7 linked regions of the Homo sapiens genome follow. The protein of the gene in region 2 purifies or fractionates together with the protein of the main gene of each other region. This does not show direct contact. Each region holds a gene or a part of one and is shown on either strand. Other genes may lie near its edges.

Region 1 (3,500 bases), on a different chromosome or scaffold from region 2:
GCTAAGTAACACGATGCAAAGCTCTACTGAGCTGCACAATCTTTATTATATGGGCAACTTCTGACTTAAGAATGGCTTCTCCCCTCATGTGGGCACAAAGACATCTACGGTAGTCCCTCCTTATCCACAGGGCGTATGTTGCAAGACCCCCAGTGGATGCTTGAAACTGGATGGTACTGAACCCTACACATACTATGTTTTGGCTTTTTTTTTTCCCCATACGTACATACCTATTTTAAACTTTAATACATTAGGGACAGAAAGCATTTAACAATAATAATAAAATAGAAGAATTATAAGAATATACTGTAATAAAAGTTATGTGAATGTGGTTTCTGTCTCTTTCTCTCTCAAAATATCTTACTGTACTGTACTCACCTTTTTTTGAACCACAGGTGACTAAGGTTAACTGAAAGTGTGGATAAGAGGTGACTACTGTACCGGGTGGCACGTAACTCACAGGGGTGGCTATTCACAGCAGGGTCAGGCCCTTGGGTCTTACCTCGATAGCACTGACTGGATCCTCCAGCAGTCACCTGGCAGGCAGACTTTAGTTCTAGAGAACCCACAGGTTGGGTACCACGACGAGGAAGGGGTTGGGGAGGCACCAGGTGGGGAGGGCCAGTGGTAGTTTTGGTGAAGTGACTCTGCTGTGGTACTTGACTGTTACTCTTCTCATTAGTTCCTGCTCAGAAAACAAGGGAAGAGCAGATTAAAGTTCAGCAAACTAAGTGAAGGGACCATATGTGTGGAGGTGAGGTCAAGAGAGAGGGATCATCACCATTCCGATGAAGGATTCCTAGAGAAGGTAGCATTTTAACAGTTGCTTAAACAATGGGGAAGAAAGTAGAGTCCACAGGAAACAGGAGAAAGTTTTTTATGAACCATAGGTGTAATGTGAAAGAAGTCTCAGAAGCAGATAATAAAATGGAAAAGTGAATGAATCAACACATTCTTTATTAAAAGGGCTTCCCGAATGTCTCTTGTAAAGTCGATGCAAACCCGGAGTTCTGAGGCATAAGCCACTTTACCTTGCTCTGGGGAAAGGGTAAGACCACTGAGTACTTCCTCCAGCTCCTGGATTTGTTTGATCAACTTCTGACCCTTGTCTGGAAGAGCCTGGATGTTCACTGATGCCAGTGTGCTCTGAAAAACAGATTCCATCAAATGGATCTCTCCTCTCACACTGTTAGATGAATAGTTTCAGATTAAAATAGCCTGAAACACCCAAACTCTGAAATTATGGTCTTTTAAATATGTGTGCAAAAACCAGAACCTTTTTTAAATTTTAACCCAGCTGGCTTACCAATCTTGAAAATATAAATAGGGGAAAAGGCAGAAACTGAACATGCACCTATAAAACCTTCACATGAACATATTTAACCCTTCTGTAGCAATGAGATCTCATATCTGCCCATAACAAGCAATGCTCTGACCTCAGAAACAAAACACGAGTCAATAGTTACCTTCTTTTGTTTCAGTTGTGTTGTAAGGTAGACACGCCGGGCTACTGGGTCTGAGGGTTCTACCTTCTTGGAAACACCTGAGGCAGGAGACACCTTTCTTTGCACACTTCGATCAGGGAATTGGAGGTTTTCCTTCGTCTCTAAGTCCAGAGTCGAGTCAAAGAGTAGGGGGCTCCCAGGCTTAGAGGAAACAAAAACAACATCATCTTCCTCCTCGTCGTCACTGCTTGTGGCAGCTTCACGGCCCTCACCCAGGGAAAGCCCTGGTGCTGCTGGTGCAGCCTGAGCCGCTGGTCCTCCAGGAGCAGGCACACTGTGGGTCTCCGGCCGCTCTTGGAAATGCCCCTGAGGCAGGCTTTTCTGGGTGGCCTGTATGCTAGGGCCATCCTTTGCCTTTGTTTCTTTAGCCTCCCAGTTCGTGTACTCCTTGTTGAGGGGTCCCCCTTTCTGGGGCTTGCTTATTGAGTTGTGACTGTGAACATTTTGAGGCAAAAGCTGGGTAACCTTTTCTCTCAGAGGTTCTGATTCTCTTTGGACATCTTGACTCTTACCACTTGATTTCTCCTGAGAAGATGCAGATGGTCTTGTAAGCTCATTACCTTGGCACTGTTGAGATTTAATTTCAGAAAAGTCTCTTTTGTGTGTGCCTCCAGTCTCTGCCTCACACTGAATCTCTGCTCCCTCTTCTTGCTTCTTCTCTTGAACTACAGATTGTTTTTTCTTTGGTACCAGGCCAGATGAGAGGTCTTTCTCCATCATTTCAGGCTTCTGTTCTTTCTTTTGATCGAAAAGCTGATCTCCCTTTTCTCTTTGCTTCTTATCAGCCTTCTTTTCCTCACCTTCACCTTTGATGAGCTGTTTCCAGAGAGCTGGTTCTTGATTCTTGTCAAGTACCTTGAATGGATTTCTCAGCCAGTTGGAAGAATGATGAAATGTCTCAGATGCATGCTGAGACTTATTGGATACAGAATGTTCTTTGGAATCAGGATCCTAAAGACAAAATAATTAATCTTCATATAAAATATTAATACAAACTTCGTATCTAGAATGCCTTTCCTTTTCATCTCAACTTTTATTTTATATACAGGGGGTACATATGCAGCTTTGTTATATGAGTATATTGCACTCAGGCAGTGAGCATAGTGCCCAATAGATAGTTTCTTAACCCATGCCCTCCTCCCCTCTCCAGTAGTTCACAGTATCTATTGTTCCCATGTTTATGGGTGCTCAATGTTTAGCTCCTGCTCGTGAGAACATATGATATTTGGTTTTCTGTTCCTGCATTAATTCACTTAGGATTATTCTGCAGAAGAAATGGAAACACAGTAAAAGCAGTCCAATATTTCCTGAACATTCTTGGTACCATTTCCACGTCTAGAAAAGATGACGTGCCAAACCCACAAAGGACTCATTTCTTCACGATACTTTCGAAGCTTGGTTCCTTCTCTGTCCATGATCACTCTTTTCCAGGCCTCAAGGAAAAGTAGTGACAAACCAAAGTGCTTTTACAATCACAATGGCCACAGTGTATACTTTTCAGGAAAAAAACTATTCTCTTAAGATGAACTTTTCCCCAAACCTAAACATTGTCTTAAAACACTTGCTTTGATTTTGGCTTTAGGAGGATTTTACTGTGGTAATCTAGAATCGTAAGTTCAAGCCACACCTCTGCCAAAACAAGTCTTATCACCTCCCTACTTCTAGTTCCTCACGTACTGAATATCTGTAGGGCTTCTCCTATTAGGAGATGCTCCTCCTAGTTCTAACATACTAGGAGCTTATGCTTATACTTAGCTTATACCAGTATCAAGTAGAAATTCCTCTATAAAAAGATACAAGAGTTAGTCAAGGAAATCTATTTTTTTCCTTGAGTAAAAGAATACTGACTACATTTAAGACCTCAAAAAATATTTACTAAGTGAAATAGGATGCAAATAATTAATCTTGATTACGACTAAATGATCCTTTGAATAAAAGTCCCAACAGGGCCTACCTTGCTTAAAGAAAACTATCTTTCGGAGACAGTCTGATGAA
Region 2 (3,500 bases):
ACCCTGGCAGGGGCGGGCAGCCCCAGAGTGATTGCGGGCAGCAAGGACACTGTCGGCAAGGCGAACGGGGCCACAGAAGTCTCCTGCAGCCGCAGCCGCTGGCCCAAGAGCGCCTGCCATAGGGAGCAGGGCGAGGGTCACCGGTCCCAGACCTCTACCCCGGCGCACCTTCCCCAGAACACCCAGGAGGCTCTGGCAGGGGCTGCCCAGACCCTGCAGCCCCAGCCCAGGTAGGGCCGCCTGCTGGAAGAAGGCTGAGCCTCAGAACTGCCCCAGGAGAGCCCAGTCTCGGCAAGGCCTTACCTCCGAGCCCAGGATGGGATTGGGGCCGTGCTCGCTGTCATTGGGGGAGCTGCACCCTGATGCGGGCGTGCTGCTACTACTTGGGGAGGAGTCTGAGGGTTGGGGAGAGAGGGAAGTGCAGTCAGAGGCCAGGGTGGGCAGGAGGGTACAGCCAGGCCGCCTGGTGCAGGAGACCCGGGAGCACCCCCTTCCTTAACGAGCACCTTTGCTTCCTGCTTTCTTTTTTTTTTTTTTTGAGACAGAGTCTTGCTCTGTTGCCCAGGCTGGAGTGCAATGGCACGATCCCGGCTCACTGCAACCTCCACCTCCTGGGTTCAAGCGATTCTCCTGGCTCAGCCTCCCAAGTAGCTGGGACTACAGGCATGCACCACCGTGCCTGGCTAATTTTTGTATTTTTAGTAGAGACAGGGTTTCACCATATTGTCCAGGCTGGTCTCAAACTCCTAACCTCAGGTGATTGACCTGCCTCAGCCTCCCAAAGTGCTGAGATTATAGGCGTGAACCACCGCGCCCGGCCTCCTGCTTTCTTCCCATCAGAGCAGGAAGAAGACAGGCCACCTTTGGCCTACAGCACCTTTGCATAATTTTTTGAAGGGTGCCCCCTTTTCTGGGAGATGTCACCTTAGCTAACAGAGCAGGGACTGGGTTTCAGCCCCAACTCCCCCGCTTCGGCAAGTGTGTGGGACACCCCCATGCAACCACGCATGGCAGTCCTAAGGAGGGGACCCCTGTCTAGGTGGGGCCTGACCCAAAGGGACAAGACCAGCCAGGTTTGAGGATGGCAACCGCACTGGCTCAGCCGGCCCTCACCTCCGAGGGTCTCTGCGGGCCGCCGCCGGAGGCTGGGGGGCGCACTCTCCTTTCGGAGCAGTGGATTCTTCCTCCGCTCCAGGGACTTCTTGGGCTTATAGCGCAGCTTCAGGTTGGGCTCAGAGACTGCAGGGAGCACCAGCGTCACTCAGGCCCCCACCACCCTTCTTTTTTCCACCCTTTAACCCCTCAGTCCCAGTCATCTCTATCGGTCAAGGAAAGAGAAGGCAGAACTAGAAAGAAGATCCTAGCCTACCGATGATCTCCTGGCCCAGCCCAGCCCGCCCACCCCTGCACACTCCTCCCCCATGTCCGAGGCCCTTCCCCCTTCCTTTGCCTGAAAGGTCCGCCTGTTTGTTCAGCTCACCTGTCTTGCGCAGAGGGAAGTGCTCTGGGGGGTCACTGGGCAGGCTGGGAACAGGAGGCAAAAAGCTGCTGAGCATGGAGCGGGTGGCTCCTTCCGTCTCCAGGGGCTCCAGGGTTCTACAGAACGAGTGCCAAGGCTGCTTCAGAGGTGTGGGGACACTGCACGGGCACTGCCCTGAGCACGGGCCCTGGGACCTGAGGGGGAGGCTGCAGCGGGCAGGGCTGGGCAATGTGGGGCTGGTAGGAATGGGGACCATCTCCAGGTGGCAGCAGTGGGCCGCCTGTCCGCTCCAGCAGCTATAGTGCAGAGCTCTGACCTAGGCATAGAAGCCAGGTGCTTGGTGCGTGGGTGAAGAGCCCACTGGGGGCTCTGTCACCTGCACTAGGAACCTGCTCTGGGAACCAGGACATTTTTGCGCTCAGGGAAAATATAAAGAGAGAAGGGGCTCATGTGCAAGAAAAAAGCCAGTAGGGTGTGTGTGTGTGTGTGTGTGTGTGTGTGTGTGTGTGTGTGAGAAGGGCTCAGGTGGGGTGGGGAGAATTTAAAGAGAGGAGGGCAGGTATCAGTTGAGAGAGGGGCTCGGGGGCATTATGTTTAGAGGAAGGGTAAGGACTGGTTGTGGCAACTGGGGAGGAAGGAGGCAAGTGTGTGTGCTCATGGCTAACACGGGGGCGGGGGTGGAGGGTGCATGTGGGGACAGGAGGGCAGGTGAGGAGGGTGTTACCTGTAGGGAATGCCGGGGCTGTTGGGATGGACTGTTCTTTCTAGGGCCGCCTGCTGTTTTTTCAGAATCACCTCCGCTAGCTTCTGCTTGACCACGCTGCTGGCTACAGCACCTGTAGGGGCAGAGTCAGGAGGGGGCTGGAGGTGGGTGGACAGGCGGCCTCGTGGCACTACCTGGCCACTGCCCTGTCCCCATCCTCAGTAGGAGGCGTCCCAGGGACTCCCTAGGCAAGAGCCAAGCCCGAGGCCCTACCCCTCCCTAGAGCCTCCAGACACCACCCCCCACCCCCACATCCCCCACACATTCACAGGCAGAGCCCAGGCAAGCAGAGGGAAAGCCTCGGCTCAGGCCCAGCTGGCTGCGGCCCTCCCACCTCACCCCTCACAAGCCACACAGGCAGCCGCAGGCACCTGGCTGGTGGGGCTGGGCTGGGCTGGGGTGGCCACCTCCTTACTTCGCTTGCTCTTGTCCTTGTGGAGAAGCTGCCGCAGCTCTTGTTCCTGGGGTCCCACCTGCAACTCGGGCATCGGCGTGTCCATGGAGAGCTGTGGGCAGGGCCGGCAGCCCAGAAAGGGACAAGGAGTTGAGGACTGAGACTGGTGTCTAGGGATGCTGAAGGCGGGGAGGCTGGGGACCAAGCTCAAGGTGGCCCCACATGCAGGGAGCTCCATCTTTACCCTCATGGGCTCCACCGAGCGCTGCTGCTGCAGGCCTGCTAGGAAGAGGTGGTGGTGCAGGCGCTGGGGACGCTGCAGGGCCAGCAATGTGGGCTCTGGTGGGGGCTCCACTGGGGGCCGCTGGCCCACCCGCAGGTCCATGGGCTGCGGCTGAGGGCCTGGTGTGTCTGCACAGGGCCTGGGGCAGCCTAGGGACAGAGAGAGGGAGCAGGGTAAACTGGAAAGTTTGTCCTCGGGGGCATGATACAGCCTGATCCCCCCTCAGCCTCCCTCAGGCTCACTTGACAATGGCAAAACACTCTCATGGGGGTTTTTCCTCACTTAATCCTGTCGTGGTCCTGCAAGGTAGGTATTATCAATTCCATTTTACTCGTGAGAAAAAAGTCACATGAACTGTGCACAGTAACACTGTATCACTGGTGGTGTTTGAACGGAGTCTTCCGACTCCACCACAGTGCTCCTCCACTAAACATGCTCCTCCCTGGGCCGGGGGCTGAGGGCTACAGTGATCTCCGATGGGCTGCAGATCCTATGGTAGGACATTCTTGGCCCTGCCTTCTCCCTCCCTTCATCCCTCCCTGGAATCAGAGGATTTGCCCAGCTGCCCTCTAATGAGTTG
Region 3 (3,325 bases), on a different chromosome or scaffold from region 2:
CGGGATGACTTCTGTGCCTGGCTTGGGGGATGGCTCCTGGCTGGCCTTCACACTCTCACCCTCCTGCTCGCTGGGCTCGGGCAGGGGCATCCCGGGACCCAGGGCCTGTCCCTCAGGCCACACTCAGCCCCCAGCAGGTGGATTTCTCCTACTCCCAGGCAAGGAACCTGGAGTCCAGCGGTTCCGTCCTAAGGAAGGAAGCAAAATCCCGTCAGTGGTGGAAGCCCTTGGGAGGCTCTAGACGTGGATCTGGGAGGGAGGTGGGGCAGATGGGGCTGCCTCACTGCTCGCTGGGGCCAAGACTGACAGGGGGCCTGATGGAACTAGGCTTCTGCTCTGCCAGTTCCTCTCCTGGCAGCCTTGGGAACGTCAGCCCCATCCAACCCCACTTTCCCCATCTGGAAAAGGTGCACAGTAAACACCCTCCACAAGGGGCCATCAGAATGACTAATGGACTAAGAACTCAGCCACTACCAATGGGCCTCCCACATGCTGAGCACGGACGAAGGGTTTCCACCCTGAGGACTGTTTCCAGTCCCACCTCCCACCCCTGTTATGACAGCAGGCTGTTCTTATGGACCCAGTCACAGTTGAGGACACTGAGACATGCCAGGGTGATCCACACGGCCACAGAGTGGCAGAGATGGAGTGGACACAGAGCCCATGACCACACAGCATCTGGTGTACTTTGTCCATGTTAACAGACATCAGTGTCCCTGGGCACCAAGCATCAGAGCTAAACACTCTGGGGACATTAGCTCAGTTTGTGTTGTCACAGGGAGCATGGGCCAGGCACCTGCCAGCACTTTGCAGACCATAGCACTGCAGCTGGCCCTGGCAGGTGGGACAACCAGATCCAGCCACATCCCCGTCTGAAGGCCCACATGCTCCTCTGCTCGTTGGTTCTTTTTGTTTGTTTGTTTTGGAGACGGAGTCTCGCTCTGTCGCCCAGGCTGGAGTGCAGTGGCACGATCTTGGCTCACTGCAAGCTCCGCCTCCCGGGTTCATGCCATTCTCCTGCCTCAACCTCTCCGAGTAGCTGGGACTACAGGCGCCCGCCACCACGCCCGGCTAATTTTTTGTATTTTTAGTAGAGACGGGGTTTCACCGTGGTCTCGATCTCCTGACCTCGTGATCTGCCCGCCTCAGCCTCCCAAAGTGCTGGGATTACAAGCGTGAGCCACCGCGCCTGGCCACACCCACTGGTTCTCACACCAACCTTGCGTCTGAGCTAGTGCTGGCGCTGCCCTGGCTGGGTGGGGACAGCGATGTGGAGATGTTGTGGATCCCACCGTCACTGAGGACTCCTTGGCTTCTGGCCTGGAGAAGCAGAAAGGATGGGTTGTAACCCTGTAGGGGCAAGTGCCGGGCCACCCCACACTGGTGCTGCAGCACCTCAGGACTGGGGCTCCAGGCCAGTGTGGGGTGGCCTTTCTGTCTTTTGGGGGTCAACTGGGTGGTGGGCAGACCATGGGGTCTTTCCCAGCTTACAGTTTTAGCCTAGACACAAGACTGCAGCTTGGGCAGCCACCTAGCCCCCTGTCCAGGACCCAGGCAGGACAAGGCCCAGAGACACCCACTTTCCCCTCGGGCCGATTCCCCAACCTGGGCTTGAGGTTCTCATGGTTTCCTTGGACCCCTCCCAATGCGTCTGTCCTGAGGGGTCCATGCCCAGCACCCTGGCGCTTTTTCTAAGACCCTATTGTCCATGAGAGGGGCCTAAGGATGCAGGACTGGAGTACAGGGTTGGGGGCCTTGTCCTGAGAGCTTCCCTCTGTAGTCCTCTGACCACTAAACAAAAGCAGATGTGAAGCCCCCACCCCAGGGGCACCTTCTCGAGGGGGTGGGCACTTGAAGAAATGCGCCAGGCGGCGAGTCACATGACTGCAGAGTACCGCAGGGATCGGGGTCGCGTTATCCGTCCGCCTCCGGACAAGCCAACCCCTGTTCCTCCCGTGCGGCCCTTCCGGCTCTGCTCATCTGCCTCACAGGGCGATGTGGGGATGCCGGGGACCTGGGGGCCACTCTGGGGCCGTAAAGAGTTACGGGAGGCCCCAACCACATAGCGCCCTGCTTCACACGCTGATTGGCTACGGCGCACGTCCCTCTGGCGGCCGATCTCCCCACGCCTCCCACACTCCGCAGCATGAGTGGGCAGTCCGGGCAGGAATAAATGCCAGGTTCCCTGACCCCACGTCCGAGTCCACCCCGGGTCCTCTAGCGCCTCCCGCCGTGTCGGTTCTGCCACTGCAGCGCTCCCAGACTCCAAAAAAGATGAAGCCTCTTGCATACCCAGCGTGCAAATTCCTGCAAGATACAGCAGTTGGTCCCCACAAGGCTGGCAGGGACCCAGACCTAGCAGCCTCCTCCAGGCCAGCAGCCATTCTCCGAGACCTCCACACTCACTCTGACCCCCAGACTGCACGCCTCCTTATATTAGGTTAGTGCAAAAGTAATTGCGGTTTTGCCATTGCTTTCAATGACAAAACCGCAATTAATTTTCACCAACCTAATATTTGGCACCTGAGGCACCTCCTTGCCATTCCATAGTCCCAGCCCTGCAGCCAGGCCAACTCTGAGCTGTACAAAAGGGCCCCAAAGGGGCCGGGCGCGGTGGCTCACGCTTGTAATCCCAGCACTTTGGGAGGCCGAGGCGGGCGGATCACAAGGTCAGGAGATCGAGACCATCCTGGCTAACATGTTGAAACCCCGTCTCCACTAAAAAATACAAAAAATTAGCCCGGCGTGGTGGCGGGCGCCCGTAATCCCAGCTACTCGGGAGGCTGAGGCAGGAGAATGGCGTGAACCTGGGAGGCGGAGCTTGCAGTGAGCCGAGATCGTGCCACTGCACTCCAGCCTGGGCGACAGAGCGAGAATCCGTTTCAAAAAAAAAAAAAAAAAAAAAGAAGAAAAGAAAAGGGCCCCAAAGTGACGTCAGCCCCATCTCAAATTCAAACCCCATATTAAACGAACAAGACAGACCTAAACTATTGACTAATTCTCCAAAGCGAAAAGTCAGGAAAATAAAAAAATCTCGTTAAGCTGTAACAAGAAGGGAATCGTGAAATACGTAAATTGGGCTCTTTCATATTGTGAAATATATATTTGGTGTTTGACCCTCTCTCCCAGTACATAATTCCTAAAATTCCTGGAATCTCCAAAATGATGTCTTTTTGTATGCTTAGGCACTGACTGATGGCTGGCAGCCCCTGGGCTGCTTCAATGGGGCTGGTCACCAGAAAGACCAAGGCAGGGTTAGAGGGTTGGGACTTTCAGCCCCTCCTCCAAACTCCAGGAAAGGGAGAGGGCCTGAAGGTTAAGTTGA
Region 4 (3,500 bases), on a different chromosome or scaffold from region 2:
GATATGTTAAGTATACATAGTAATATGTATTATATACACATATATTTATTATATTTATTTATGTTAATTATAAATAATCGCACGATATAATTTTTATTATTAATAATAACAGGATTCCATTTTTTAAGTACTTGCTATGTGCTAGGCCATTTGCTAACACTGTCTCATTAAAGTCCTAGGAAGCAACTATTATTTACTGATGAGAAATGGAGGCTTAGAAAGTTAAACATCTAGCCCGAAGTCACAGAGATAAATGACAGAGCCACAATTTAAAAGCAAGCTCTTACTGTTTTTTGCCTGTAGTGACTATTAACAACACACTGTATTCCTCAAATTACACTACCACAGAAATAGGCAAAATATGCCAAATCCTTCAAATGTACTAAGTCAGGGAAAGATTTATGTGACTTTGTTGCTGTTTTTTCCTCTCTCTGCATCTAAGCATTATTGTAAAGCAACAATGACCCCACAAGGACATTAGAAATAAACACATTTTTGCGACCATGTAGAGTTTTTACTTTTTAAAGAATTAAATAGCTTTTGTATACTATTAAAAGAGTGATATTATTTTATGCTATACCCAATAGCTTTCAAGATAACTGTTAAATAAATTTAAATGGTGGGTGTCTACAATTACAGGATAGTCCTGCAATTCCCACATGTCATTTGTTATTTCTTTCCATAGTAAAATTTAAAGTGATAGAAAACTGGTTTAGGCAATATTCTAACACCAAGTCACTTATTTAATGTTGCAAAACTTTAAAATTGGTGAATTCTTCCATTAACTAAAAAGTTATTTCTACAGATACATGCTGAAGAGATTTAAAGTATCAACAGTATGTTTGAACTAAACAATATACACACTAAAAAAAAGGTAAAGTAAAAAGGGATGTTAAGAATTTTATACTTCGAGCAGTTTGTGCAGGTTTTCTTGGGAGGAGGTGGCAGGCAGGCAGGTGAAGAATGTCTGGTGATGCATCGTGTGGAGCAGAAGAGCTGAGTAGATCCTGTCTTATGATATGCAGTTTGGCCCTTATAAAGCATTTTTTTACAACCAGAACAAAAAACCTTAATAGCAACAGCTGGAACTGAAGGAAGCAACACACTTGGGCCAGATGATGCAAAAGAAAGCTGAAAGCCTGGGTTCAACTGCTGGGCTATCAAAACAAAATAAAAAAAGTTTTAGTATCAATACTAATGCATATACAGTCTCAGTCTCTCTCTCTCTCTCTCTTTTTTCTTTTTCTGAGACACGGTCTCACTGTCACCCAGGCTGGAGTGCAGTGGTGCAATCAAGGCTCACTGAAGCCTCAAACTCCCAGGATTAACCAGTCCTCCCGCCTCAGCCTCTTGAGTAGCTAGGACTACAGGCACATGCCACCACACCCAGCTAATTTTTTTTTAATTTTTAGCAAAGATAAGGTATGTTGCCCAGACTGGTCTCAAACACCTGAGCTCAAGCGATCCTCCTGCCTCAGCCTCCCAAGTTGCTGAGATTACAGGTGTTAGCCACTAAACCCAGCCCAGTCTCTCTTTTTCAGGACAAATTCCCAATCTTGAAATCCAGTTAATGAGGCAATAAGAGCTCTAAAACAGAGGTTTCAATTTTTTTTTAACCATTACTCAACGCAAGAAATACATTTAATATTATAACCCAGTTCTCACATACATATGTTTGTAAACGTGGGGATGTATGTACAATTTAATCACTGAAACAGAAGTTTTATGAAACAATATGTTTCCTTACTACACATATCATATTCTGATATAATCTTACTCTATTTTTTAAAACGCTGCTGAAAACCAGCTACTCACAGTTTGAAAAAACACAGCTCTAAAGAAAGAGAAAGACATACATGAAAAGATGCTTTCCCTCAATTTTAAAAGTCAGAATAAGCAAATTAATTGTAACTAACTTATACAGTTCCATTTCTTACCAATAGGTCTCTCATTAACTGAAGACACACCACCAATTTTCAATTTACTTTCTTGAGTTTTTGGCTGTTGGACACATCCATACTCCTTTAAAAAAAAAAAGAAAAGAGAAAAGAGCAATGAATACAATGTATGTAAGTAAACTAGAAATTCAAGCAAAAAAAAATTATTCTATCCTATTCATCTCCTTTTTTTTTTTTTTTTTTTTTTGAGATGGAGTCTCACTTGGGTGCCCAGGCTGAAGTGCAGTGGCGCGATCTCAGCTCGTTGCAACCTCTGCCTCCCAGGTTCAAGCGATTCTTCTGCCTCAGCCACCCGAGTAGCTGGGACTACAGGTATGTGCTACCACACCCAACTATTTTTTGTATTTTTAGTAGAGACAGGGTTTCACCACATTGGCCAGGCTGGTCTCGAACTCCTGACCTTGTGATCTACCCACCTCAGCCTCCCAAAGTGCTGGGATTACAGGCGTGAGCCACCACACCCGGCCCTATTCATCTCTTAAACAGTCTAATCATAAATACCTTCACAAGCACCTCAAAAGTCAAAATTTACAAGTTATTACACTAATCTTTACAAAGACAATCTTTCAGAATTAGAGAATCTTTTAAAATACTTTTATCTACTTTTCAAATGAAATTTTGATATATGGGAGTAATACATAGCTATTCCAAATGCTGAGCACTACCTATTTTTTAGGTAGTGTGTTTAAAAGGGGGTAATAAATGAAAAAAAAAATTTTTTTTTTTTTTTGACATGGAGTCTCATTCTGTCACCCAGGCTGGAGTTTCATTCTGTCACCCAGGCTGGAGTGCAATGGCGTGATCTTGGCTTACTGCAACCTCCAACACCCAGGTTCAAGCGATTCTCCTGCCTCAGCCTCCCAAGTAGCTGGGAATACAGGCTTGCGCTACCACACCCGGCGAATTTTTGTGTTTTTTTCCAGTAGAGAAGGGGTTTTGCTATGTTAGCCAGGCTGGTCTGGAACTCCTGACCTCAGGTGATCCGCCCACTTTGGCCTCCCAAAGTGCTGGGATTACAGGTGTGAGCCACTGCACCCGGCAAAAAGGAGCAATAAATGAAATTAAATCTGGCTGGGCGTGGTGGCTCACACCTATAGTCCCAGCTACCCAGGAGGCTGAGGCAGGAGAATCACTTGAACCCGGGAGGAGGAGGCTGCAGTAAGCCAAGATTGTGCCACTGCACTCCAGCCTGGGCAACAGAGCGAGCCTCTGCCTCAAAAAAAAAAAGAAAAAGAAAAAAAGAAAAGTTAAATCTGAATGATTTAGAGTTTGGATTTCAATCATTTTAGATTTACAAGCTGCCTTTTCTGTTAATGGCAGAAAAGATACAAGAGTGTCAATGCAATCTGCTCATTATACATAAAATCATCACAGACAAAATCCTATTTATTCTTACCACATTCTTTAAAACGTTTTAAAACAAAATGTAATCATGAAACATTTTTAAAATGTAAATGCCTATCTTTATTCTGAAATTGCAACCATCCTTTTTTTTAATGTTAAAATACCCTTACATATTTCAAAACAGGAAGTTTTTTAAAA
Region 5 (3,500 bases), on a different chromosome or scaffold from region 2:
GTCCACATTTTAGCATGTATCAGAACTTCATTCCTGTTATGGCAGAATAGTATTCCATTGTATGAATATACCACATTTTATCCATTCATCTACTGAGGAATATTTGGATTGTTTCCACTTTTGTGTATTATAAATGATTGCTGGTATGAATACTGGTGTACAAGTTTTTGTGTGGATGTGTTTTCTCTCATTTGGTGGGTTGTCCTTTCACTTTCTTGATGGTGTTCATTGAAACATACAAGTTCTTTTTAAGTTTGATAAAATCCAATTTGTCTATTTATGTTGTTGCATTTTTGGTGTCATAAGAAATTATTGTCTAATTCAACAAGGTCCTAGTGATTTATGCTTATATATTACTCTAAGAATATTATACTTTTAGCTGTTTCATATTTAGGTATTTGATCCATTGAGTTAATTTTTGAATGCAGAATGAGGTAGGGGTCCAAGTTCGTTCTTTTGCATGTTGATATCCAGTTGTCCCAATATCACTTATTGAAGAAGTTATTTCCCTCGTTGAATAGTCTTGGTATCTGTTGAAAATCAATTGACCATAGACATATGGGTTTATTAAATTAAAATTATATTTCATTTGTCTATATGTGTATACTTATGCCAATATCACACTGTCCTCATTCTGTAACTTTTTTTTTTTTTTTTTTTTTTTTTTTTTTTTTTTTTTGAGACGGAGTCTCGCTCTGTCGCCCAGGCCGGACTGCGGACTGCAGTGGCGCAATCTCGGCTCACTGCAAGCTCCGCTTCCCGGGTTCACACCATTCTCCTGCCTCAGCCTCCCGAGTAGCTGGGACTACAGGCGCCCGCCACCGCGCCCGGCTAATTTTTTGTATTTTTAGTAGAGACGGGGTTTCGCCTTGTTAGCCAGGATGGTCTCGATCTCCTGACCTCATGATCCACCCGCCTCAGCCTCCCAAAGTGCTGGGATTACAGGCGTGAGCCACCGCGCCCGGCCCATTCTGTAACTTTGTAGTAAGTTTTGAAACTGCAAAGTGTGATTCCTCTAACTTTGATCTTCTTTTTCAAGATTGCTTTGAGGTCAGGTGTGGTGGCACACACTGTAATCTCAGCACTTGGGGAAGCTGAGGTGAGTGGATCATCTGAGGTCAGGAGTTCAAGACCAGCCTGGCCAACATGGTGAAACCCCATCTCTACTACAAATACAAAAATTAGCCAGGCGGTAATGGCGTGCGCCTGTAATCCCAGCTACTTGGGAGGCTGAGGCAGGATAATCACTTGAGCCTGGGAGGTGGAGATTGCAGTGAGCTGAGATTGCACCACTGTACTCCAGTCTTTGTGACAGAGTGAGACTCTGACTCAAAAAATAAAATAAAACGATTGCTTTGGCTATTCTGAGTCACTTGCATTTCTATATAAATTTTAGAATCAGCTTGTCAACTTCTGCAAAAAGGCAGCTGGGATTTTGATAGGCATTTCATTGAATCTGTATATTAATTTGGGGATTATTGCCATGTTAACAATATTAAGTCTTCCAACCCATCAGTACAGGATATCTTTCCATTTATTTAGGTCTTCTTTAATTTCTTTCAATGATGTTTTACAATTTTCAGTGTATGTGATACTTCTTTTGATAAATTTTTTTCTGTGTATTTTATTATTTTTGATGCCTTCGGAATTGTTTTTCTAATTTCATTTTCATAGTATCTATTGCCAATGTATAGAAATTGAACTGATGTTTGCATATTGATCTTGTATCCTACCACTTGGCTAAATTTGTTTTTAAATTCCAATAGTTTTGTGTGTGGATTCCTTGAAATTTTTTATACACAAAATTACATTATTGGCAAGTAGAGATAGTTTTACTTCTTTCCAATCTGGATCCCTTCTATTTTGTTTTCTTGCCTAATTGCCCTGGCTAGAGCCTTCAGTACAATGTTGAATAGAAATGGTGAGAACAGGCACTTTTGTCTTGTTTCAAACTCAGGATGAAAGTTTTCAGTCTTTCACCACTAAGTATGATGTTAGCTGTGGGGGGTTTTGCAGATGACCTTTATCAGTTGGTTAACTTTTCCTTCATTCCTAGTTTATTGAGTGTATTTGCATTCAAGAAATATTTATTGAGCACCTACTATGTGTCAGGCATTGTTCTAAGTGCTGGAGACACAGCAATGAACAAAATAGAAGATAGCATGATAATGGCAGAGAAAGACCTTAAACACAAACTATGTCAAGTGGTGAGACATATGGCTCACATGTGTGTGTGTGTGTGTGTGCACACGTATTTTAAGTGTACTGGACACAGTGACTCATATCTATAATCCCAGGATTTTGGGAGGCCAAGGCAGGATTGCTTGAGGCCAGGAATTTGAGACCAGCATAAGCAACATGTGAGACCCCATCTCTATAGAAATAAATAGCCAGGCATGGTGGTGCACACCTGTAGTCCCAGCTACTTGGGAGGCTGAGGCAAGAGGATAGCTTAAGCCCAAGAGGTCAAGGCGGCAGTGAGCTATGATCATGCCACTGCATTCCAGCCTGGGTGACAGAGCAAGTCCCCGTCTCAAAAAGTGTGCACATGCACACATAAATATGGACAACCACTGGAAAGATACACAAGACATGAGTGACAGCAATTGACTCTGAGGTAGACACAGTGGCTGCAGCTGGCGTGAGAGGGAGGCTCCCTGGTGATTCTTCACCCTCCTTTGGCAACTTTTGAATCTGATACCACTAAATGTTGTATCAGTCCATTCTCACATTGCTATAAAGAACTACCTGAGACTGGGTAGTTTATAAAGAAAAGAGGTTTAATTGACTCACAGTTGCACAGGCTGTATAGGAGTCATGGCTGGGGAGGCCTCAGGAAACTTTACAATCTTGGTGGAAAGCGAAGCAAGCACATCTTCATATGGTGACAGGAGAGACAGAGAGAGACAGAGAGAGAGAAGGTGCTTGTGAAGGGGCAGGTGCTACACACTTTTTTTTCTTTTTCTTTTTTTTTTTGAGAGATAGGGTCTTGCTCTGCCACCCAGGCTAGAGTGCAGGGGCTCAATCTTGGCTCACTGCAACCTCCACCTCCCAGGTTCAGCCTCCCAAATAGCTGGGATTACAGGCATGTGCCACCACACCGGGCTAATTTTTTTATATTTTTAGTAGAGACTGGGTTTTGCCATGTTGGCCAGGCTGGCCTCCCAAAGTGCTGGGATTACAGGTATGAGCCACTGCACCTGGCCAAAGAAAGTTTTTTTGTTTTGTTTTGTTTTTTTGTTTTTTTTGAGACAGGGTCTCACTCTGTTGCCCAGACTGGAGTGAAGTGGTGCAATCTCAGCTCACTGCAGCTCTGACTTTCCAGGCTCAAGCAATTCTCCCACCTCAGCCTCCACAGTAGCTGGGACTTTAGGCATGAGCTACCATGCCTGCCTAATTTTTGTATATTTTGTAGAGACGGGGTTTCACCATGTTGCCCAGGCTGGTCTTGAACTCCTGGGCTCAAGTGATCTGCCCACCTCAGCCTCCCAAGTGCTAGG
Region 6 (2,750 bases), on a different chromosome or scaffold from region 2:
TGAGTCTCATTCTATCACCCAGGCTGGAGTGGAGTGGTATGATCTTGACTCACTGCAACATCTGCCTCCCGGGTTCAAGTGATTCTCCTGCCTCAGCCTCCTGAGTCGCTGGGATTACAGAGATGTGCCACCACGCCCAGCTAATTTTTGTATTTTTTTTTTTTTTTTTTGGCAGAGATGGGGTTTCACCATGTTGGCCAGGCTGGTCTTGAACTCCTGACCTTAAGTAATCTGCCTGCCTCGGCCTCCCAAAGTGCTGGGATTACAGGCCTGAGCCACCACGGGGCCCCAGTGTGCAGTCTTTTATCCCCTCAGTCTGTACCCAGTGTGTAGTCTTTTATCCCTCACCCCCCTGCTCCCACCCTTTCCCCCTGGGTTGAATATTTCAAATCTATTTCTTCCTTAAATCTTACTCAAAGGAAATCCAATACCATAGTCAGTTTCACCAAGGATGAATTTCTTGACCCAGAAAGGAAAGCTCATTTTAGGGAGATGGTCAGTTTAGGTATGTGTCTGAATTTTATTTAAGATAGATGAACGTGGATATATAGTTATGCATTTGGGCCTGAATTTTTTTTTCTAGTTGTTCTTTTCACTGAGCTTTCCCAAGAATCCCCCCAGAATTAAAAAAAAAAAATTACTATCTCCTCTCCCTGGCATATAAAATGGTTGGGATTAGATTTACCAAACCATTACATCTCCCTTTTGTCTGCCTGCAAACAGATTTTCCAATCCATAGGCCCAAAGTGAACTCCCACGTGGAGTAGGATGAAAACCCACAGCATCTAGATCTTCAAATTCTGGAGAAAAAGAGAGTGTGAAAGACTGCTCAGTGGCTGGGGTGAGAGTCAAGTCTGGCCAGGTGCTAATCTGGAGAAAAGCCAAGACCTGGAGCGAGCTGGAGTGGCAGGCCCTGGAGGATGAGAAGGTGGCAGGAGTGCACTGGGGATACAAAGAAACCAAGATTTTTCTGGGAATTCTCAGAGGCCTGGATCCACGAAAAACTCCGCACCTGCCATCGAAACCACCAGGTGTACCGGATTATGGCTGAGCAGCTGTGAGAACATGGCTTCCTGTGGACCCTGGAGCAATGTTGCTATCGGTTCAAAAACCTCCTGACCGACTACTGCAAAGCCAGGAGCACCTACACACCAGGCACCAGTGTCTTCTATGATGAGATGGATGCCCTGTTGAGTCTTGGGGCACTTTCTAACACCTTTGATGCCTTAGAGGTGGTAGGAGGCCTTCTTTGGGATTGAGAGGATTCCAAAGGGAACCAGGGCATAGCACTAGAAGATGTGGCGGGATGGTAATGAAATAGTGGAGGAGTCTCAAGAGGAATCCTGGAGGCTTGGTCCCCAGGCCTTGAGGTGGAATCCCAGTGGCAACTCTCCCCCACAATGGACCTCAGAGCAGTGGGAGCGACGCAGTCCTGTGGGAAGCATTCAGGCTCAGAATCAGGAGATGTGATTATTGTCCTGGCTCTGTTATGACTAATTTGGGTCTGGAATGGCCTCATCGGGGGAAAAATTGGTGACAACTTTAAGAAATACTGTTTATATCCCGTCCTCAAATATTGCTTGACTCAACCCTCTACTGAACCAGTAGTCCAGGGTGGCTCACAAAGACCACTTTGAGGCTCTTGCTCTGCTCTTTAGCCAAGGAGTCTCCCTTCCTGCCTTCAGTAACAACATTACAGGAAGAGAGGAGAGAAAGGTAGGAGTTAAAGATCCAGTCATTTGTTTCCATCTAAAGTGCCCTATAAGCCGGGCATGGTGGCGCAAGCCTGTAGTCCCAGCTACTCGGGAGGCTGGGGCAGGAGAATCACTTGAGCCCAGGAGTTGGAGGCCGCAGTGAGCTGTGATCATGCCACTGCATTCCAGCCTGGGCGACAGAGTGAGACCCAGACTCAGCTGAAAAATAATAATATTATTAAAAGAATTTAAAATAAAGTGTTCCATAGATGTGAACCCTGCGTAGATTATACACACCAGTCTGCCATTTAAAAGGTTTGTTGTTCTTGGGCAACCTCTTTAAATACCCTTAGCCTCCATTTTCTCATCTGGACAGTGGACATTGTGATGGTTTCTACCTCCCTGGGCTGTTATGAGGATCCTGACACAGTATTAGCACTTGGCAAACGTTAGTTTTCATTATCATCATCATTATAATTATTATGAAAATAGATAAGGGCATTATCCTGTACCCTCAAAGGAGTAAAAGGGGGAAAATGAGTCATTAAACTTTCTCTTCTGGGAACTAGACCTTCTTGAGAGGCACTATCATTCTCATTTCACCTGTCACTTCCAGACATGGGAGCAGAAAGTGAATTTCAGAACTCCATGTCCCCTCCTGCTTTTCTCTGAGCAGGACTTCCAGTTCCCCAGCCAGATGGGGTCACAATGCTGCAGAAAAGTGAAGAGCTTTGGAATGAAGATCTCCCGGACTTCAAGGAGATTCAGAAAACGTCCAGTGCAGGTGGGAAATGAATGGGAGCTAGCATTCCACCAACAAAGTCAGCCCTGGGATTCTAAACTCGGACAAGCCAGCACTGGTTAAGGGCTGAGGGGAACCAGGCACTCAGTGCACCCAGTTTACTATTCTGTGGTGTGGAAAGCACAGGACTTGAGAAGCAGGTGGCACCCAGGAAAGCCTGTTCCCCTAAGTAAGTTTGAACTTTAGTTACTTGAAAAAAGGTATAACTGAATTATGAGTGTTTATGATTTTATCTTTATTTTATTTTTTTTGAG
Region 7 (3,500 bases), on a different chromosome or scaffold from region 2:
TCCCACCCATGAGTCCATTAGAAATACCATTCAGAGGCCAGGCGCAGTGGCTCAAGCCTGTAATCCCAGCACTTTGGGAGGCCGAGGCAGACAGATCACCTGAGGTCAGGAGGTCGAGACCAGCCTGACCAACATGGAGAAAGCCCGTTTCTACTAAAAATACAAAAATTAGCCGGGCGTGGTGGCAGGCGCCTATAATCCTAGCTAATCCAGAGACTGAGGCAGGAGAATCGCTTGAACCCGGGAGGCAGAGGTTGCAATGAGCCAAGATTGCGCCATTGCGCTCCAGCCTGGGCAACAACAGTGAATGAAACTCTGTCTCAAAAAAAAAAAGAAAGAAAGAAAGAAAGAAATACCATTCAGCCTCATTGCTGCTGCTGCTTTTGAGATTGACAGATGTCTCTCAGAGAAGCGAGCTCAAATGCTGGGCTCACATCACTGGCTTTCCTATTTTTTAGAACTTGACCCTGCAATTTCTTCATTTCCCTGATAATGCTCTAATCCCCTCACACATAAGCTTTCTATATCTTACATTAAATATTTAATATTTTCTCTAGCTTTTCTGATTATTCTCAGTTGGAAGTTTGGTCCAAACAATCTACCTCTTGCATATAAAATTGTCCCCCCAACTTTTTTTTTTTTTTAAGATGGAGTTTCGCTCTCGTTGCCCAGGCTGGAGTGCAGTGGCGCAATCTCAGCTCACTGCAACCTCCGCCTCCCAGGTTCAAGTGATTCTCCTGTCTCAGCCTCCTGAGTGGCTGGGATTACAGGCGTTTGCCACCATGCCCAGCTACTTTTTTGTATTTTTAGTAGAGATGGGGTTTCACCATGTTAGCCAGGCTGGTCTCAAACTCCTGACCTCAGGTGATCCAGCCGCCTTGGCCTCCCAAAATGCTGGGATTACAGGCGTGAGCCACCGCGCACGGCCGCCCCGCTCCCCCTAACCCTTTTATTTTTTTAATTTGAGACAGAGTTTCGCTCTTTTGCCCAGGCTGGAGTGAAGTGGCACAGTCTTGGCTCACTGCAACCTCCGCCCCTCGGGTTCAAGCGATTCTCCTGCCTCAGCCTCCGGAGTAGCCGGGATTATAGGCGCCCACCACCATGCCTGGCTAATTTTTTTATTTTGAGTAGAGTCAGGGCTTCGCCTGTTAGCCAGGCTGGTCTCGAACTCCTGACCTCAGGTGATCCACCCGCCTCGGCCTCCCAAAGTGCTAGGATTACAGGTGTGAGCCACTGTGCCGACCTATGTCCCTCTTTTTATTCTGAATATTATCTGTGCATTTTCTTAGTACCATGGATGTTTTTCATTTTTATAAGTGTTTTCAAAGACAAAACTTTGTCCCTATTCAGTATTTCTGATGGTTTTTAAAATTTCACTAATTTCTACCTTTTTTTTTTTTTTACTATATTTCCTTCTGCTCTCTTTAGATTGATTTTCCTATTATTTGCAGATAACTTTGCTATTCTCTTTCATGAGATGAATACTTAGCTCATTAATTTTCCTTATCAGTTTATTAAAGACTATAATTTTCCTACTAAGTACAGCTTTACTTGTATCCCACAAGTTTTGAGACATATGATTTCATTATCATTTAGTTCTGAACATTTCTAATTTCCATTATAATTTCCCCTTTGACCCATGAATTTATCAATTCTTTTTGAAAATGAATGAGACTTTTCTAGTTATCTTTTTTTTTTTTTTTCTTTGAGACAGAGTCTCATTCTGTCACCCAGGCTAGAATGCAGTGGCAACCTCAAACTCTGAAGCTCAAGCAGTCCTCCTGCCTCACCTTCCTGGGTAGCTAGGACCACAGGCACATGCCACCACACCAGGCTAATTTTTAAATTTTTGTAGACAGTCTTTCTTCCTTGCCCAGGCTGGTCTTGAACTCCTGCCAGATCCTCCCACCTCAGTTTTCCAAAGTGCTGGGATTACAAGTGTGACCCACTGTGCCAGGTCTCTGGTTATCTTTTTAATTATACTTGTCTCTTGACTTCCAAAAATATAAAATATATAATATATATTATATAAATATATATTTTATGTATGTATTTTTATATATTTTTATATATAAATTTTATATATAAATATAAATATATAAATATATATTTATATTTTATATTATATAATATATTTATATTTTATATTATATATTTTTATATTATATTATATAAATATATTATATTTTTATATTATATTATATAAATATATTTTATATTATATATTATGTATTATATATTTTATATATTACATATATTATATATTTATATAATATATTATATAAATATATGTTTTATATATTTATATATTATATAAATATATATTTTATATTATATATAATATACTTTTACATAATATAATATATATATTTTTCTTGAGACAGGGTCTCATTCTGTCGCCCAGGCTGTCGCCCAGGCTGGAGTGCAGTGGCGCGATTTTGGCTCACTGCAACCTCTGCTTCCGGGGTTCAAGTGATCCTCCCACCTCAGCCTCCTGAGTAGCTAGGACTATAGGCATGAGCCCCACAACTGGCTAATTTTTGTATTTTTTGTAAGGATGGTCTGGAACTCCCAGGCTCAAGTGATCCACCTGCCTCAGCCTCCCAAAGTGTTGGGATCACAGGTATGAACCACCATGCCAGCTAGTTATCTTTTTATTTACTTCTAGTGATCACATTGTGGTGAGAAACTGTATTCGGTATGATACCAATCTTTTGAAACTTGTGGTCTCATATGTGAAAATTTTATAACTGTTCCTTGTGTGTTTGAAAAATATAAGGATGAAGCGGCTGTTACATACAGTTAAGTGTGATATTCAAAGAGGTTAAAAATTCAGGCCAGGCACAGTGGTTCACACTTATAATCCCAGCTCTTTGGGAGGCTGAGGTGGGTGGATCACCTGAGGTCAGGAGTTCAAGACCAGCCTGACTAACATGGTGAAACCTCATCTCTACTAAAAATACAAAATTAGCCGAGCGTGGTGGTGCATGCCTGTAATCCCGGCTACTTGGGAGGCTGAGGCAGGAGAATTGCTTGAACCTGGGAGCTGGAGGTTGCATTCAGGCAAGATCGCGCCATTGCAGTCCAGCCTGGACAACAAGAGTGAAACTCTGTCTCAAAAAAAAAAAAAAAAAAAAAGAAAAGAAAAGAAAATTCAGTGGTAATATAAATTAACATAAATAAAATTTAAAAACATTTTCTAAATAAATTAACCTATATAGATTATAAAAATGCTCACCAGGTGATAACCATTGTAGCTCAAATTGTTCATTAAATCATTCTAGTAATTTTCAATCATTTATTAATTTTTGGAAATTGTAGCCATAATCTTTTATTTGACACAGATGCCCTTGTCTGAACCATGAATTGACATAGGAAACTAGATAAAGCCCTTCTAAGAATGTCCACATTAAATTTATAGTCATTAAATAACTTGTAGTCATGATACGTTAAAAAAAATCACACTTTTTAAAATTTTTTGTAGAGACAAGGTCTCCCTA

The links.
Region 1: the proteins of HDAC7 (region 2) and TTF2 purify together in Homo sapiens (affinity purification with mass spectrometry; 3 studies listed by BioGRID and IntAct, with this or other methods). This does not show direct contact.
Region 3: the proteins of HDAC7 (region 2) and FLYWCH2 purify together in Homo sapiens (affinity purification with mass spectrometry; 3 studies listed by BioGRID and IntAct, with this or other methods). This does not show direct contact.
Region 4: the proteins of HDAC7 (region 2) and ZMYM6 purify together in Homo sapiens (affinity purification with mass spectrometry; 3 studies listed by BioGRID and IntAct, with this or other methods). This does not show direct contact.
Region 5: the proteins of HDAC7 (region 2) and MOCOS purify together in Homo sapiens (affinity purification with mass spectrometry; 3 studies listed by BioGRID and IntAct, with this or other methods). This does not show direct contact.
Region 6: the proteins of HDAC7 (region 2) and WDR73 purify together in Homo sapiens (affinity purification with mass spectrometry; 3 studies listed by BioGRID and IntAct, with this or other methods). This does not show direct contact.
Region 7: the proteins of HDAC7 (region 2) and DCAF10 purify together in Homo sapiens (affinity purification with mass spectrometry; 3 studies listed by BioGRID and IntAct, with this or other methods). This does not show direct contact.

What each region holds. Positions count from the first base shown.
Region 1 is NC_000001.11:117,073,826-117,077,325, reverse strand, and holds part of TTF2 (transcription termination factor 2), read right to left. Parts: intron 2,457-3,500; coding exon 1,467-2,456; intron 1,147-1,466; coding exon 1,032-1,146; intron 686-1,031; coding exon 503-685; intron 1-502. UniProt on the Homo sapiens protein: DsDNA-dependent ATPase which acts as a transcription termination factor by coupling ATP hydrolysis with removal of RNA polymerase II from the DNA template. May contribute to mitotic transcription repression. May also be involved in pre-mRNA splicing.
Region 2 is NC_000012.12:47,795,904-47,799,403, forward strand, and holds part of HDAC7 (histone deacetylase 7), read right to left. Parts: intron 3,070-3,500; coding exon 2,882-3,069; intron 2,750-2,881; coding exon 2,659-2,749; intron 2,317-2,658; coding exon 2,205-2,316; intron 1,639-2,204; coding exon of another isoform or gene 1,597-1,638; coding exon 1,481-1,596; intron 1,240-1,480; coding exon 1,114-1,239; intron 396-1,113; coding exon 304-395; intron 114-303; coding exon 3-113; intron 1-2. UniProt on the Homo sapiens protein: Responsible for the deacetylation of lysine residues on the N-terminal part of the core histones (H2A, H2B, H3 and H4).
Region 3 is NC_000016.10:2,893,215-2,896,539, reverse strand, and holds part of FLYWCH2 (FLYWCH family member 2), read right to left. Parts: intron 1,321-3,325; 5' UTR 1,220-1,320; intron 189-1,219; 5' UTR 91-188; coding exon 1-90.
Region 4 is NC_000001.11:35,018,446-35,021,945, forward strand, and holds part of ZMYM6 (zinc finger MYM-type protein 6), read right to left. Parts: intron 2,023-3,500; coding exon 1,938-2,022; intron 1,158-1,937; coding exon 908-1,157; intron 1-907. UniProt on the Homo sapiens protein: Plays a role in the regulation of cell morphology and cytoskeletal organization.
Region 5 is NC_000018.10:36,190,497-36,193,996, reverse strand, and holds part of MOCOS (molybdenum cofactor sulfurase), read right to left. Parts: intron 2,876-3,500; exon of another isoform or gene 2,794-2,875; intron 531-2,793; exon of another isoform or gene 1-530. UniProt on the Homo sapiens protein: Sulfurates the molybdenum cofactor. Sulfation of molybdenum is essential for xanthine dehydrogenase (XDH) and aldehyde oxidase (ADO) enzymes in which molybdenum cofactor is liganded by 1 oxygen and 1 sulfur atom in active form.
Region 6 is NC_000015.10:84,638,785-84,641,534, forward strand, and holds the end of WDR73 (integrator complex assembly factor WDR73), read right to left. Parts: 3' UTR 501-2,750; downstream 1-500. UniProt on the Homo sapiens protein: Component of a multiprotein complex required for the assembly of the RNA endonuclease module of the integrator complex. Associates with INTS9 and INTS11 in the cytoplasm, stabilizing the INTS9-INTS11 heterodimer and blocking the active site of INTS11.
Region 7 is NC_000009.12:37,807,297-37,810,796, reverse strand, and holds part of DCAF10 (DDB1- and CUL4-associated factor 10), read right to left. Parts: intron 1-3,500. UniProt on the Homo sapiens protein: May function as a substrate receptor for CUL4-DDB1 E3 ubiquitin-protein ligase complex.